Regions from separate parts of the Homo sapiens genome. Here region 2 is linked to region 1. The links come from fine-mapping of genetic effects on gene expression. A gene starts in region 1. The other region holds a variant in brackets. All regions are shown on one strand. Distances are between the middles of the regions. Region 1 holds the start of LRRC58 (leucine rich repeat containing 58). Region 2 has its middle 30 kb from the start of GPR156.

Region 1 (4,256 bases):
TTAGAAAGCAGTTTCTCAGTTATCTTAGCTGCTCAATGGTCTGGTTACATTTATCCTAAATTCAACAACCAAATAGTTGGAGACTTTATTAAATTAAAAGCTCCTAGTACAGCGTTGCAAGCAGTAGGTTTTCAAAATTTGTCAGGTTACTCATTTCTTTACCTACACCACTTTTTTTCTACTTCCTTTCCTTTATTCTATATAATGTGGAGTTCCCATACTAAGTATTTTTTTCCAAACTTTCTACTAGGAAGCCTCATTTGCTATTATTGAGGTTATCTTTTTCCCTTTAATTCCACTGATTTGTAATCTTACCTCTTATTTTATTTTTCTTGAGACAAAAAAAAAAAAAAGTGCAGGGCAGTGGCACAATCATGGCTCTCTGCAACCTCTACCTCTTAGGCTGAAACAATCCTCCCAGCAGCCTGTGTAGTAGTTGGCACCACAGGCGAGCGCCACTAGGCCCGGCTAATTTTTGTATTTTTTGTAGAGACGGGGTTTCCCCATGTTGGCCAGGCTGGTCTGGAACTCCTGACCTCAGCGATCTGCTGGCCTGGGCCAAAGCACTGGGATTACAGGCATGAGCCATGGCACCTGGCCAACTCTTATTTCTGAATTATGTTTGAATCCTTTCTTTTTCTCATTTTACATTACGTTCCTATCACTTTTTAAAATCCAAGATAAATATTTTAAAGCAAAAACAACTATTATTTTAAATATTTGTTATTTTCAGATATTAGGACTACTGTTAGAATGCTGGCTTGACCCAAAATAAGGTCTGTTCTTAAAAGGACTCTTTCAAAACAGATGACTCATCAGTTTTAAAAAGCATTCCACCATTAGCTTAAACATACAAAGTACGTCCTTCTAGGACTACCACTCAATCAGAAATTAAAGTTTGACTGCAGAGTAAAGGCATAGTTTCTCATACAAATAAATGACTGGCAAGAAAAAAACGACTTTCCTTTTTTAAGGAGGAAAGCAATTTAATGTCGTTGATTATACACGACCACTTAACTTTCTTATGTATAAGCTTTGTTAAAAAAAAAAAAAGCTAAGCATTTTTTCTCATTTCTATTCATTACTTTTCAAAATCATAAAATGTAATTTCAGAAAAGATTGAGTTTGGGACAAGGATGAAAAATACGTTAATTAGAATTACTAAATTAGTACCAGATCAGGATTTTCCCAAACTGTAGTTTTGACCTGCAGTACAAACTCTATGCTTTGAGTTTTTAAACTAACTCATTAATTTGAGCTATCTCAAATCATGCAACCGCCTCCATATCTCCCAAATTCACTCCTAGACACAACTTACACCAAAAGCCACGTATGTGCTTCTACAATTAAAACGGGCAAAACGTCCTTACTTGATACACATTTCTGCCTTAAAAAAGAAAAAAATAATTCTGTGGGGCAAGTAGTGCGGGTGTTACCCATATTTTATGCATGGGGCAACTGAAATCAAATCCCTGCCCTAGGCTATTTAACAGCGGAACCTCCAGTAAGGGTCCGGGGGTTCTGAGGTCTAGTCCAGCTGCGTTCACATTTCGAGGTCGGCTTTGTTAATCCTCGGACTTTAAATTCCTGCGGTTTTCTGTCATGGAGCTAAATCACCACTAAATTACTGTGTGCTCACAGAGTCCTGCAGACACGGGCCCCACTTTTAAACTGAAAAACAAGCGGGGGACGGGGGGGGCACGTGACGCGCGAACCCTCAAGGCGAGATAACCGAACATCCTTGGGCTGTTTGCCGAGGCAGTCTTGTAGCCCTGGAATAGGTCACCAGGCTCCAGCGACTATAAAGCGCGGCCGCCGAAACCCGGTCCGGCTCAGATGACAATTTGGCAGCCTCTGGGTGTCTGCCTCAGTTCTGCGCAGCCCATGCTGCGCTCTTGCCACTCCGCGCCCCGCGCCTCGTGAGGCAGAGCCCGCCCCGGAGCGGCGCGCGCACCCCAGGACTCGCGTCGCGTGACTCGGCCAAGGCGCGCAGGGTTTGCGCCCGCCCGCGCCACTTCCGACTCAGCCCTCGGTTCAGGTTCCGGGGCGCCGCAGAGCTCCCGGCCTCTGGACCGCGCGCGGCGCTCTGGGGAATCCGGCGCCACGCGCCGTGCGGTGGCCAGGATGGAGGAGGCCGGAGCAGCGGTGGTCACGGCCGGGGAGGCCGAACTGAACTGGTCCCGCCTCAGCGTGTCCACCGAGACGCTGGAGTCTGAGCTGGAGGCGCGGGGGGAGGAGCGGCGCGGGGCGCGGGAGGCGCTGCTGCGGCTGCTGCTGCCTCACAACCGTCTGGTGTCGCTGCCACGGGCGCTGGGCAGCGGCTTCCCGCACCTCCAGCTGCTGGACGTGAGCGGCAACGCGTTGACCGCGCTCGGGCCGGAGCTGCTCGCTCTGCGCGGCCTGCGCACGCTGCTGGCCAAGAACAACCGGCTCGGCGGGCCCAGTGCGCTGCCCAAGGGCCTGGCCCAGTCGCCGCTCTGCCGCAGCCTCCAGGTGCTCAACCTCAGCGGCAACTGTTTCCAGGAGGTGCCTGCCTCGCTCTTAGAGCTGCGCGCGCTGCAGACCCTGAGCCTGGGCGGCAACCAACTGCAGAGCATCCCGGCTGAGATCGAGAACTTGCAGAGGTGAGCGGGTGTGTGCCGGAGGGTGGGGAGGCCTCGGGCGGTGTCCGGGAACCCTGGGGCGCCGGGCCTGGGCACCTCAACGTTTGTCACGTAACTATTTCCAAGCTTTCTCTTTAACTGTGCGGTAGTGAGTTCTGCCCAACCATCTCAGCAAGTTGTTGTAAATACCTAGTATGTTCGCATGTGTGACTGTTTGGTGTGTTGTGTTTGGCCTATGCAGATTCTCGAGGCATTTTTTCTGTCTTCCTTATTGAATCTGGGGCGTGATCCAAACTGAGTGGAAACTCAAAACAGATGTAAATCAGAGGTTGTCACTTCTTTGCTCAAAAGTCTTCCGTGGATTTCCATCTCTATAGATCAAAGTACGTGCCTTTGAGCGTGGCGTACAAGGTGCTCTGATCTAACCCTTGCTTTCCACTACATTTGCAGCTTCCTCTTCTCTGTGGCAGTACCAACTACCATTTGTGGAGTTCAGTGACCTATGCATTTTCCCACGTAGAGAAAGCAGCTTGGAGTTGCTGGTAGGCACTCAGTATGTGTTGAATGGATGCAGTGCCTCTGTACACGTGCTGTTTCCCTTGCTTGGAATGTTTCCTTCACCTGGCAAACGCCTATCATCCTTCAAAAGCTATCTCAAGTTAATCATCTCTGTGATTCCTTTTTTACTACTCCCTGCACAACAATTTTTTTCGTTACTACTCCCTGCACAAAAAAGTACAGCCTATGCTGTACTTTCTCTGTGCTTCATTCATCTTGCCTTTGCATTTACCTTATTGGATATGATTCCTTGTTTACAGGAATTATCTGCTTCACCTACTAGATTATGCAGTAAATATGTTAAATTTAACTTTAGGAGGAAGCAGAGAAACAGGATAATAAAAGTGCCCGGTGGGGGAGTGGGAAATAGAGCCAAATGTATTGTACAAAACGAAAAAGAGGTATCTTCCATCTGTAAGATATTTTCACACTTTATTGTATTTTCAGAGATAACAGAACGTTAAAGGTAGAAGGGACCTCAGAGTTAAGTGGAGCAAAAGAATATTGGCCTGGGAAGGCCGGGCGCGGTGGCTCACGCCTGTAATCCCAGCACTTTGGGAGGCCAAGGCAGGTGGATCATGAGGTCAGGAGATCGAGACCATCCTGGCTAACAAGGTGAAACCCCGTCTCTACTAAAAATACAAAAAATTAGCCGGGCGCGGTGGCGGGCGCCTGTAGTCCCAGCTACTCGGGAGGCTGAGGCAGGAGAATGGCGTGAACCCGGGAAGCGGAGCTTGCAGTGAGCCGAGATTGCGCCACTGCAGTCCGCAGTCCGGCCTGGGCGACAGAGCGAGACTCTGTCTCAAAAAAAAAAAAAAAAAAAAAAAGAATATTGGCCTGGGAAAAAAGAACTCTTGGTGCTCCAGCCTTAGGCAAGTCACTTGTATCCTAACTGTAGCGTATCCTAACTGTAGCTTTCTAATCTACAAATGAAGCATTTGGGCAAGATGTCTCTTCATTTACTCTTCAATAGATATTTATTGAATACCTGCCCTGTGTCAGGCACTGTCCCAAGTATTGGGGATACAATGGTGAACATGATCCAGGAGACAGACATTAAACAACTAACTATGAACCTCATTATTTAATTACAGT
Region 2 (4,256 bases), 34 kb after region 1:
CACTTTTCAAAGGGAATGCTTCCAGCTTTTGCCCTTCAGTATAATGTTGGCTGTGGGTTTGTCATAGATGGCTCTTATTTTGAGGTATGTTCCTTCAATACCTAGTTCGTTGAGAGTTTTTAACATGAAGGGATGTTGAATTTTATGGAAAGCCTTTTCTGCATCTATTGAGATGATCATGTGGTTTTTGTCTAGTTATGTTTATGTGATGAATCACATTTATTGGTTTGTATATGTTAAACTAACCTTGCATCCCAGGGATAGAGCCTACTTGATAGTGGTGGATTAGCTTTTGCTGCTGGATTTGGTTTGCTGGTATTTTGTTGCGGATTTTTCCATCAATGTTCAACAAGAATATTGGCCTGAAGTTTTCTTTTTTGTGTGTGTCTCTGCCATGTTTTGGTATGAAGATGATGCTGGCTTCATAGAATGAGTTGAGGAGGAGTCTCTCCTTCTCAGTTTTTGGGAATAGTTTCAGTAGAAGTGGTATCGGCTCTTCTTTGTATATTTGGTAAAAATTGGCTGTGAATCCATCTGGTCCTGGGCCTTTTTTGATTGGTTGGCTATTTGTTACAGATTCAATTTCAGAGCTTGTTATTAGTCTGTTCAGGGATTCAGTTTCTTCCTAGTTCAGTCTTACGAGGCTGTATGTATCTAGGAATTTGTCCATTTCTTCTAGTCTGGAGGAATAGAGTTGTTCATAGTAGTCTCTGATAGTTATTTGTACTTCTGTAGGGTCAGTAGTAATATCCTCCTTGTCCTTTCTAATTTTGTTTAGTTGGATCTTCTTTATTTTCTTCTTTATTAGTCTAGCTAGCAGTCTATCTTACTAACTTTTTCAAAAAGTCAGCTCCTAGATTCACTGATCTTTTGAATTTTTTGTGTCTCAATTGTCTTCAGTTCAGCTCTGATTTTGCTTATTTATTGTCTTCTGCTAAGCTTGGGGTTGGTTTTCTCTTGCTTCTCTAGTTATTTAGTTATGATAGGCTGGAATACAGTGGTGTGATCTCAGCTCACTAGAACCTCTGTTTCCAGGGTTCAAGCAATTCTCCTGCCTCAGCCTCCTGCGTAACTGGGATCACAGGCATGCACCACCACGCCTGGCTAATTTTTGTATTTTTAGTAGAGACAGTTTCACCATGTTGGCCAGGCTGGTCTCAAACTCATGACCTCAAGTGATCTGCTGTCTTAGCCTCCCAAAATGCTGGGATTACAAGTATGAGCCACTGCACCCAGCCATCTTTCTAACTTTTTGATGTGGGCATTTAGTGCTATAAATTTCCCTCTTAATACTGCCTTAGCTGTGTCCCAGAGATTCTGGTATGTTGTTTTTTTGTTCTCATTAGTTTCAAAGAACTTCTTGATTTCTGCCTTAATTTAATTGTTTACCAAAAGTCATTCAGGAGCATGTTGTTTGATTTCAAAGTAATCGTATGGTTTTGAGCAATTTTGTTAGTCTTGAGTTCTATTTTTATTGCATTGTGGTCTGAGAGAGTGGTTGGTGTAATTTTGGGGTTTTTGCATTTGGTGAGAATTGTTTTATGTCCAAGTGTGTGGTTGATATAGAATGTGTGTTGATGAGAAGAATGTATTTTCTGTTGTTTTTGTATGGACAGTTCTGTAGATGTCCATGAGGTCCATTTGGTCCAGTGTTGAGTTCAGGTCCTGATTATCTTTGTTCATTTTCTGCTTCAATGATCTGTCTAATACTGTTAATGGGGCATTGAAGCCTCCCCCTATTATTGTGTGGGGGTCTAAGTTTCTTTGAAGGTCTCTAGGAACTTGCTCTATGAATCTGGGTGCTCCTGTGTTGGGTGCATATATATTCAGGAGAGCTAGGTCTTCTTGTTGAATTGAACCCTTTACCATTATGGAATGTCCTCTTTGTCTTTTTTGATCTTTGTTGGTTTAAAGTATGTTTTGTATGAAGTTAGGATTACAATTCCTATTTTTTTTTATTTTTGTTCTTGTTTGCTTGGTAAATTTTTCTCCATCCCTTAATTTTGAGCCTATGGGTGTCATTGCATATAATATGGGTTTCTTGACGACAGCATACTATTGTGTCTTGCTTCTTTATCCAGCTTGCCACTCTGTCTCTTTAACTTGGAGCATTTAGTCGATTTACATTCAAAGTTAGTATTGATATGTGTGGATTTGATCCTGTCTTCATGTCATTACCTGTTTATTATGCTGACTTCTTTGTGTGGTTGCTTTATAGTGTCACTGGTCTGTGTACTTAAGAGTGTTTTTATAGTAGCTTGTAATGGTCTTTCCATATTTAGTGCCTCTTTCAGGAGCTCTTTTGAGGGAGGTCTGGTGGTAACAAATTCCCTCAGCATTTGCAATTTCTTATTTCTCCTTTGCTTATGAAGTTTAGTTTGGGCAGACAAGAAATTCTTAGTTGGAATTTATTTTCTCTAAGAATGTTGAATATAGGCCCCAATCTCTTCTGGCTTATAGGGTCTCTGCCAAGAGGTCTGCTGTTAGTTGGATGGGCTTCCCTTTGTAGGTGACCTGGCCTTTCTCTCTAG[T/C]TGCCTTTAAATTTTTTTCTTTCATTTCGACCTTGGAGAATCTGATGATTACGTGTCTAGGGGATGATCTTCTTGTGAAGTATCTTACTGTGTTTCTTTGCATTTCCTGAATTTGAATGTTGGCCTCTCTAGCTAGGTTGGGGAAATTCTCTTGGATGATATCCTGAAATATATGTTCCAAATTGGTACCATTCTCCAAATTGGTACCAGTCTCTCTTTCAGGGACATCAGTGAGTCATAGATTTGGTCTCTTTGCATAATCCCTCATTTCTTGGAGGTTTTGTTTATTCCTTTTCAATATTTTTTCTTTATTCTTGTCTGTCTTCAGAATGTCAGTCTTTAAGCTCTGAGATTCTTTCCTTAGCTTGGTTTATTGTGCTATTAATTACAATTGCATTATGAAGTTCTTGTAGAGTGTTTTTCAGTTCTTTCAGGTTGGTTATATTCTTTCTATACTGGGTACTTTGTCTGCCAGCTCTGTATCATTTAATTGTGATTCTTAGCTTCCTTAGATTGGGTTTCAACATTCTCCTGAACCTCAATGATCATTCCTATCCATATTCTGAATTCTATTTCTGTCATTTCAGCCATCTCAGCCAGGTAAGAACCCTTGCTGGAGAACAAGTACAGTTGTTTGGAGGAATGAAGGCACTCTGGCTTTTTGAGTTGTCAGAGTTATGGTGCTGGTTTTTTCTTATATTTGTGGGCTTTTATTCTTTCCATCTTTGAAGTTGCTGTCTTTTTTGTCTTTATCCTATTTGGTGACCTTGGGGACCTGATTATAGTAGTGTTGGGTTCAGGTGACTGACTTCATTTCTGGAAGATTTTAGGGGGCCAAGCTTCAGCTCAGGACTCCTGGACTGCATGTTCTAACTCTGGGAGACTGGTATTGAGCCCCAACTTTGTTCTCTGGCTCCTCGAGGTTATGAACCTATTGTGCTGGAGGGGCCAAGGTGTTCCCAGACTACTGGTCACAATACTCTAATGGGTGATGCCATCCAAAGCACATCATAGCAGGGTGACAGTGTGATCTGTCCTAATTTGCCTGTGCCAGCTGCAGCAGCAGCAGCAGCATGGTGGGATGCATACTGCATGCTCATCAGCTACAGCAGGGTACTAGTGGGTACTAGGGTGGCAGCCTTCATGGGGCTGTGTGCATGTTCCTCTGGTGGTGGTATTAGTACAGGGTTGGGGCACTGGAGGGTGCAGGACTGTGTGAGGTCTCTGTGCACATTCACACCCACAGCAGTGGCTGGTCAGAGCAAGGGTGGGTTCACTATTCTCCATGACTAGTTATGTGCCAGTGGCAGTGTTGGCACAGAGGCAGGGCACTTGCAGGGGTAGGACTGGCAAGCTCCATGCTCACCACCATCTGACAACAATGGCATTGTGACGGGGGAGGGGAGCAGGGTGCAGTCACCCTGGCAGCAGTGACATGGCAGGGTGCACACACCCACACATACTGGCAGGGAAGGTAAGGCAAAGTCTGCCTTCATACACATACACTGGCACAGTGATGCAGGGGGTGGCTGTGGGCAAGTGCATGCAGTCAAAGTGGCATGGGGGAGGCTGCAGTGGAGGGAGGGCACAGGCAGGCTGGTGTGTGTCCATAGGGGCCACTCTGCTGGAGCACTCTGCTGGTCAGACAAGGTCTGCCAGTCTTCGGATGTCCTAGTCCCTTGGGGGGAGATGTTCCTCCTGGCTGCGTGTAGTTGGCCATCTTAG

Evidence for each region. PIP is the estimated chance that this variant, and not a neighbour inherited with it, causes the effect.
Region 2: its variant is the best candidate, but not a certain one, in a credible set for the expression of LRRC58 in whole blood (INTERVAL, PIP 0.70).

What each region holds. Positions count from the first base shown.
Region 1 is chr3:120,347,112-120,351,367 of GRCh38, reverse strand. LRRC58 (leucine rich repeat containing 58) reads left to right here and starts at 2,014. Exons shown (of 4, transcript NM_001099678.2): 1 at 2,014-2,624. The coding sequence starts at 2,125. It also overlaps the pseudogene BTNL12P. RefSeq lists a silencer at 2,019-2,348 and an enhancer at 2,699-2,748.
Region 2 is chr3:120,313,586-120,317,841 of GRCh38, reverse strand. No RefSeq gene overlaps it. Among named protein-coding and RNA genes, the nearest start is that of GPR156, 30 kb to the right of the region's middle. RefSeq lists an enhancer at 3,890-4,256. The variant T/C (reference allele first, on the strand shown) is at 2,532.